2 separate regions of the Homo sapiens genome follow, and region 1 is linked to region 2. The links come from fine-mapping of genetic effects on gene expression. A gene starts in region 2. The other region holds a variant in brackets. All regions are shown on one strand. Distances are between the middles of the regions. Region 1 overlaps LOC105370982 (a long non-coding RNA gene). Region 2 holds the start of LINC01579 (long intergenic non-protein coding RNA 1579).

Region 1 (4,397 bases), 680 kb after region 2:
TCCATCTCAAAAAAACAACAACAAAAAAAAAACTTATGTTCACACAAAAACACAAATATTTATAACAGCACTATTCATACCATCAAAAAAATCAAAAGCAACCCAAATGTCCTTCAATGTGTAAGTGAATAAACAACCTATGGTACATCCATACAATAAACTGTACACCAATAAAGAGTGAACTTACTATATTTATATTTAAATTCAAAATAAAAGTAATTGCAATACACCTCTTTGAAAAAGTATTTGGTGGTAGGCACTGCAGGTGAACATATGTATACCCTATCGCTCAGCATTTTCACTGGGAGTAGATATAGAGACCTAGCAGAAATGCCTACATATATTCACCAGAAGATGTAACAGCACTGCAGAGTAGCCAAACCCCAGAAACCACCATATGTGCATTAGCTATAGAACAGATAAATAAATTGTGGTACAGTTATACAACAGAATGCTATAAGGCAATGAGAATAAACAGCTTATAGTTACACAACTCACAATCAATGTTAAGCCATAGAACTAGACACGAAAGCGTACATAATATATGAATTCACTCATAAAAGGCAAAACCGGCTGTGCGCAGTGGCTCACACCTGTAATCCCAGCACTTTGGGAGGCTGAGGCAGGTGGATCATGAGGTCAGGAGATGGAGACCATCCTGGCTAACACGGTGAAACCCCGTCTCCACTAAAAATACAAAAAAATTAGCCAGGCGTGGTGGCAGGCGCCTGTAGTCCCAGCTACTTGGGAGGCTGAGGCAGGAGAATTGTGTGGACCTGGGAGGGGTAGCTTGCAGTGAACTGAGATCGTGCCACTGCACTCCAGCCTGGGCAACAGAGCGAGACTCCATCTCAAAAAAAAAAAAAAAAAAAAAAAAAAGGCACAAACATGTGGCCGGGTGTGGTGGCTCACACCGGTAATCCCAGCACTTTGGGAGGCCGAGGCGGGTGGATCATGAGGTCAAGAGATCGAGACCATCCTGGCCAACATGGTGAAACCCCGTCTCTACTAAAAATACAAAAATTAGCTGGGCTTGGTGGCATCCGCCTGTAGTCCCAGCTACTCGGGAGGCTGCGGCAGGAGAATTGCTTGAACCCAGGAGGTGGAGGTTGCAGTGAGCTGAGATCACGCCACTGCACTCTAGCCTGGAGACAGAGCGAGACTCCATCTCAAAAAAAAAAAAAAAAGGCACAGACACAGGCAAAACTAATCAGTGGTGTTAGGAGTTGAGGCAGTGGGTGCCTTTGAGAGAATAGTAACTGTTTCTTGGTCAGAGTGGTCTGTTACAAGGGTGTGTTCCGTTTTTGAAAACTTGGTGATACATGCATTTGTGATTTGTGCACTTTTCTACATTTGAGTTGTAAATTTAATTTTTAAAAAGATTTAAATACAAAGTATTAAGCATTTATTCCAAATATTTGAGTCAAGAGCTCCAGAAAAATACACCAAGAGCTTCAAATAACCCTGGCAGACATGAGTCTGTGTTTTGCAGTTTGAGACACACACTCATAATGAAGAAGGAATTCATGAATTTTACAAGTATAATCAAAAACAACCAAAAATTTTTACTTTTTGCTTCAAAAGCTAAGTGTAGTGTAGCGCCCCCCGTAGTCTAAGTTGGAGAAGAATACTAACTGCCTGTTTTTCCTTCTGTGCTCAGCGAGCCCTATCTGTACTCCCCAGTTTCACATTCCTTGAGGCTCGGTGAGTTCCTGCTTCACCCCTCTAGCACAGCTGCAAAGTTACAAGGTTGATACAGAAACATGGTTTCCCAGGGATGTGGAACATACAGTATAGATAAATGTAAAAGACTCATCAACTGCCTTCGTTCTCGATTCTGTAAGTACACTTCCTGCATCACGTAGCTCCCAGCCACCGACTGCTTAAAAGGTGGCTGCTTTCTTTGTCC[G/A]GGGCTCAGACTTTCCTGGATGCTGGTCCTACTGAGCCAGGTGATCACCTTTTAATAAAGACCTTTCCTGAACTCACTCTGTTCGGTCTCTCCCATCTTTGATTGTCCCGCAACAATAATATTACTGTTAACCAATCCTCATAGTCTGCTTGGAAATAAACAGATTTTTTGCAATGCTCTATGGCTTACCCAGAAACCTCCAGATTTTTTTACTTTTTTGAAAAGTAAAAAATTTCTCTCTCTTTTTTGCCAAAGCAAAATAAGGTGTCAGTGATATCTTGGGGTTATAAGGGGTTAGGGTAGAAATGTTGACAGTGCAATGATTGTGAGCTGTGGGATAGCCTTCTCTGCTACCTATTCCAAATTAGCAATAAAAAGAAACAAACTTAATATGTGCAACAAGATAGATAAATCTCAAATGCATTATACCCAATAAAAGAAGTCAGACTCAAAAAGTTACATACTGCATGAATGGACAACAAGTCAACAACCACACTCCCAAGTTCATGCATTACTATTCCAGACCACAAGATTTAAGAAAACTCCATTTTGATCCTTCTCTCTTCTCTTGCTTACTCACATTTTTTCTCTCTCCCTGTGTATCAGTCTGGATCAGCTAGATTATGCTGCAGTAACAAATAATCTCATCTCAGTGGTTCAGAAACAGTTTTATTTCTAACTCATTCTGCAGTCCATGGGGAGTTGGCAGAGCCTCTGCTTATCATAGCTGCTGTGGGGCCCCAGTGGGTTGCCATGCCAAAAGGAAAAAGATTTCTGGGGGTCTTGTGTGTCTCCAAAATAACCCATGTCCCTTTTGCTCACAAGACTTTGGTCAGAATTATTCCAATCACAATGGAGCCAAGAAGCGCAATCCTACCATGCGTTCAAGAGGAGAACTAGGAATATTTGTTGAACTTCGTTTTCTACCATTCCCTCCTCAATTCAAATTTCTAGAAGAATAGAGTGGGTTCCATCTCACTGTGTTGTCCCCTCCTGCTTCAATTATCTAGCCTATGGGCTGGTGGGGAAAGAGGAAACTGTATACTTCATATATATATGGGAACAGGAGATGGATGGATGAGGATGGGAGGACAATTCACAGAGTCACAGGCCAAGCAAATGTACCCCATAAGATATAGAAATAGGACCTCTGGGTGTGGGTGTGGTGGGGGACAGGTCTATATGGATTAAAAAGCACAAAACAAAGAGATGCAGATACAGAATGAAAATATTATTAACCAAAGCAGCTCATGCCCATTACCAAAACTCCAACCACACAGTATTCCTTCAGGGCAATGCTTCAACCATGTAGCCGTGGACATCCTTGCAAAGGAGGAAAAGGTTTTTTCTCTGAGTTAAACCATGATGGGGACTGAGCTCATAAAAGCACATTCAGATTTTTTTGCTGCTCCACTACATAATTTATGTCCTAGTCAGGCACAATTTTCATTTAATCAAGAGCTATCTTGTCTCCAACCTTTCAATTGGGAGTAACTTTGTACAAGATGAAAATAACCTCATCCATCATGATGATAGAAATTGTTCTATATCTTCCAGGCTTTTACTTCTGACAAAATGCCAGGAATCCTGCTTCCTTGGGTGGCTTATGGAAATGCAGCAGACCCAAATTTCATTAGGACTGTAATAGCATGTCCTGTCCATGGATTAATGTGTGCCAGATGTGCAGGTTCAACCACATCTGCAAGCACCAGCCACCTGCTCAGAGGAGTCGGCCTCCAAAGCCAAGGCAAGAGAAGGCTGCTAACATTTTATTTGCCCTCCACCCTGGAGCAAAAATAATAATAATAATAATAATAACTTAAAATGCGGCAGAGGGATTGCCTAGCTTTTATTCAAAGGGGTGATGGTTTACATGAAGCTACGTACCACTAGGTCTTTCCAAGCATCTTTCTTGGACTTCTGCACCAATGTATTTAAAGGCTGAAAACCAAAGTTCCCATCCCATCACAGTGATCTTGGATAAATTCCTCGGCATCCGTGAGCTTTGCATTCCTTGTCTGTAAAATGACAGCAACAACACGAACTTGCAGGGTGGCAGTGAAAATGAAATGAGATGAAACAGAAGAAATTGCATTGCACAGTGAGAGGAGCATAGTAATTGCTCAATAAATGTTGTCCAGTCCACATTTGCGATTTTTTTTTAAGTCACATAGGTAGGGCCAAGACTGCGCTTGGATCCAGTGTGCTTGGGCCAGTGGGCTTGGATCTTGCTTTCATTCTCAAACCTGTCACCCTTCACATACACACTCAATCTCTCTCTCATGCACACACACTCTCTCTCTCAGCTTTGTTTGGGCCTGTACTATAGTGCAGGGGTTGGCTTGAGAGGCAGGAGGAACAGAAGGGCCCAGGCAAGTCATTTCTGAAAGTAAAAGTCAGAAACAGAGACATGGCAGAATGCAGGCCTAATCTACCCCTCTTCACTTCACTCACGTGGCCTGCAGAGCACATGGCAGTGCTGACAGGA
Region 2 (4,397 bases):
CTTGAAGCTGCTGCTGATATTCATGCAAGCCCTTCAATCCCCATGGTCCCTGTTTCATTTCAGGCTTTTATTAGCTCATGCCTGAACTAGTATGATAGCATTGTAATAAAATTTTCTATTTCACTTTTTTTTTCTGTTTTTAGGCTGTACTTTACTGTCAGATTTAGTCTTCCTCAACTAGCAGTATATAAGTTTTCACTCCCTAGTTACAAATTTGATGGATTCCTTTAAAATTTAAATCCAAACTCCCTGGCATTCAGGACCGTAAGACAATTTTCTCCCAATATATCTCTACAACCTTGTATGTAAATGCTACCATAAAAATAAGGTTCAAACAATCCACTTGTAAACACGCTACACAGGCCAGGTGTGGTATCTCACACCTGTAATTCCAGCACTTTGGGAGGCTGAGGCAGGATAATTGCTTCAGCCCAAGAGTCAAGACCAGGCTGGACAACATAGTGAGAACCCATCTCTATAAATAACAAAAAAAAAGTAGCCAGGCATGGTGTATCGCACCTGTAGTCCCAGCTACTTGGGAGGCTGAAGTGGGAGGACTGCTTGAGCCCAGGAGGTTGAGGCTGAAGTGAGCCATAATCACACCACTGCACTCCAGCCTGGGCAATAAAGCAACAAAGTGAGACCCTGTATTTCTCAAACAAACAAAAACAAAAAACAAAAAACAAGAAGGAAGAAAGAGAAGAAGAAAGAAAAGAAAAATACATAAATAAAAATAGACACATAGACATGCTGTAGAGTTATTACGGGCATACAGTGTGCCAAGCACATATGTATGAGCTTTACATATAGTGACTTTCATAACAACCCTATAAAATAGAATGACCATAGTTACAGAAGTAGTCACAATAGTAATTGTAGTAGCAGCAGTGATGGCACCGGCCACCTGTCTGGAGCGGCCGCTGCAAAGACACCGGCTGCACCAGGGGAGGTGCCGCCAGAGCTGCGCACTCAGCAAAGCCAGGGTGGGTGGAGGGCCGGGGCGGGGGGAGCTGGGAACAGGCAGGGGTCCCGCCCCCTACCGAGCTAAAGGGTGGGGAACCCGTGCTAGGGGCACAGCTGCAGAGCTGCCGCCGCAGACCCAGGCATCCCTGTGCTTTCGGGGGGCCAGGAAGCCCCTGACCCCACAGGTTCAGCAGTGCCTGCTTGCTCCCATTCCTGGCCTCTGCCTGCTCCCTGTGCCCACTTCAATTTTGGAGCAAAGTGATGGCCAAGCCTGGGTGCTGCTGCAACCTGGCCAGGCGTGCGCATGCTCAGGGAGGCGCTGTTACACCAGCCCCCTGCCTCCTCAGCCCCCTCTGGACTTTGGGCACTGATGAGCACGGGAGAGAGGCGAGGAGGCGCTGTGGGCTGCTGGGCTCAGGCCTAGAGGCGCCCTTCAAAACGAACAGCCTGGGTGCTGTGGAGGGCACGTTGATGGCAGCAAAAGGAAGACAGGCTACTGGACAGAAAGGGACGGGTCCCAGTGAAGCCCCACCTTCAAGCCAGGGATGGCTTCAATCCTGGAGGCCGCGCTGTCAGTTCCGGTCGGAGTCTGTGGCCTGGAGTGAGCACTAATGGTTCTTTTTCCAGGCCCGCCCATGGCCACCCATGGACCAATCAGCATGCACTTCCTCCCTTCTGAACCCATAAAAACCCCGCTCCCCGGACGCAGCCGGAGTCACGCGAAGTCGGAAGTACCAGCTGCGGGAAGGAGCTGCCCACTGTGCGTCTTCTCAACTTGTTGGGACAACCTTCCTGCGGAAAGGAGAGACAACCTTCCTGCAGAAAGGAGCTACCTGCTTCAGGTCTACTGAGAGCTGTTCTGCCACTCAATAAAGCTCTTCTCCATCTTGCTAAGCCTCCATTTGTCCGCAATACCTCATCTCCCTGGACGCAGGACAAGAACTCAGGACCCGCCTGGAGGTACTAAAAGAGCTTTAACACAAACAGGGCTGAAACACGCTCCCTTGCTTGCCACATTGCGGGTGACGAGAAGGAGAAAAGAGCTGTGTTCCTTTGAGGATCCCAGACCTAGGGTCTCCCTGAGCCAGGGCTGTGACACTCCCTTTGGGGTTCTATGGTTCCTGGCATCTTCAAGCTTCCAGGCGCCACCACCTTCGTTCCCTTCATCCAAACAGGTGCCCACAGCAGAATCCACATGCCGTCCATCTGGTCCAGCCTCACGCAGAGCCACAACTGTGCTGGCGCCTGGAGCTGCCAGCCCCACTGCAGCAGCCGGTATGTATGGCTGTTGCCGGTCCCTGCGCTCGTTCACCCACACACCCCTTGCGGCTCCGCGCCTAGCTCTCCCTGGGCAGGTGTGGGATCTGGGCTGGTGGCGGGAGCCAAGCACAGCCTACCGGGCCAAGTGGGCGGAACAAGCCCAGTGGGCACGAGCAATACTCAGGCAGAAGGTGCTGCCAGCAACAGAGGTTTCTGGCTGATGAAACGACACCTCAAGGATCCCATGACAGCAGTAATAGTAGCTGTGGTAGCAGTCATAATAGTAGTTATTGTACTAGCAGACGTAGTAGTTATAACAATAGTTATAATAGTTGTCTTAATAGCAGTGAGAGTAGTTACAGTAGCAGTTAAAATCGTTGTAGGAACAGCAACTACAAATACTTGATTGACTAACACTAGTACAACTAAGATATTTATAGTACTTACCATGCACCGGAGAGTTCACACACATTATTCTTTGCCTTTTGACCATTTTCCTCCTTTGAGATAATTGTCTCCTCATCTGTCTCTCCTCTCTCTCCTTTAGGCATTTCATCTGTGAAACTATTTATATCCCTTAAGGGATGCCCCTCCATATCTTTATATCTACTTCTCCTTCATCCCAGCTCCAATATTGTGTCTTACCATCATTATGTTTTGTAAAAGGAAAAAAGAAGCCATTCCCTACTTTAAACTTCTCTGCTTTGTATCTAGGACTGACATTCAGACGTGGAGCAAGTTGGACTGCATAGGGACCCACCAGTGAGATGGACGCTGTCTGTAAACGGTAGGGATGGCGGCCCGTCGCGGTGGCTCACGCCTGTAACCCCAGCACTTTGGGAGGGCGAGACGGGCGGATTATGAGGTCAGGACACCGAGACCATCCTGGCTAACACGGTGAAACCCCATCTCTACTAAAAAAAAAAAAAAATCAGCCGGGTGTGGTAGTGTACCTGTAGTCCCAGCTACTTGGGAGGCGGAGGCAAGAGAATCGCTTGAACCCGGGAGGCGGAGGTTGCAGGTAGCCGAGATAGCGGCATTGCACTCCATCCTGGGTGACACAGTGAGACTCTGTCTCAAAAACAAACAAACAAACAAACAAAAAGGAGTAGAGATGGCTGTGCTGGCCACACTCTGCCTCCATCCACCTTTCCTGACACTCTACTCCATGCTGGCCACTTGGCATGTTTGACTTTCCATCACTGACTGCCCTGAGCTAACCTACTTTTTTTGTCTGTTATTTTCCATATGAGCAAATCCCTAACAAAATCTTAAATTTTTATGAGGGGATGTAGGAGGGGTATTATCTATGGATGTTAATGGTATTTTTCATAGATGCCATCTTTTCTAATTTAAAAATTAAGGCATAATATTCAGAGTAGGAAATCTGTAATACATGAAGTTATAAAAAGTGATCCTTTATGTAATCACACATAATCCTTCTACCTCTAGGACATCATGGTACATACATGTTGATGTCTATCCTTTTAGTTTTATACACACAATTTTTTGTCAATTGTTTATTTTTATTTAGCAAAATAGTGTGACCATCTCAAAAAATACTCATTCTTCAAAAGTGTACCTTTTCCAATAGTGCCCAGTGAAACCTTTTATATATATATTTACAAAATTCATACTGAATACTGTAATTATTTCCTTGTTTTCAGGCAAAACCCTTTTTACTATTTTTATTACTTATTGATACATAATATTTGCACATATTTATGGGGGACATGAGAAATTTTGGTACACATATAGAATGTGTAATGACCAAGTCAGGGTATTTAAGATATCCATCACCTGGAATATTTACCATTTCTTTGTGTTGAGAACATTTCATATCTTTTCTTCTAGCTATTTTGAAATATACAACATATTGTTAACTACAGTTAACCTTCTGCGCCGTCAAGCACTAGAATTTATTCCTTCTGCCTAACAGTGTACTTTTAAATGGATGCATAGATCATAATTTACCCTCATTTTTGGTCACTGAGAGTATATGTAGAGTGTATACTTATTTAGGACAGAGTGAGGATTAGGGTTAGTAAAGCCCTCTGCCTTCCCTAGTTCTTCATTATCCCGTTTGTACACAAGCATTAGTACATAATGCTTTTCTGTGTCTCACCTCTAGCTTTCAAAACTTTGTATGGCAAAGCAAAACCCATCCTTGTGTT

What was found. PIP is the estimated chance that this variant, and not a neighbour inherited with it, causes the effect.
Region 1: its variant is fine-mapped to the expression of LINC01579 in prefrontal cortex (CommonMind, PIP 0.95).

Annotation. Positions count from the first base shown.
Region 1 is chr15:93,219,184-93,223,580 of GRCh38, reverse strand. LOC105370982 (a long non-coding RNA gene) reads right to left here. Exons shown (of 7, transcript XR_007064770.1): 2 at 3,797-3,927. Among named protein-coding and RNA genes, the nearest start is that of RGMA, 130 kb to the right of the region's middle. The variant G/A (reference allele first, on the strand shown) is at 1,910.
Region 2 is chr15:93,897,877-93,902,273 of GRCh38, reverse strand. LINC01579 (long intergenic non-protein coding RNA 1579) reads left to right here and starts at 1,675. Exons shown (of 4, transcript NR_138083.1): 1 at 1,675-1,923; 2 at 2,139-2,238; 3 at 2,938-3,010. It overlaps LINC01580 (long intergenic non-protein coding RNA 1580), which reads right to left and starts at 1,573. Exons shown (of 3, transcript NR_120323.1): 1 at 1,496-1,573.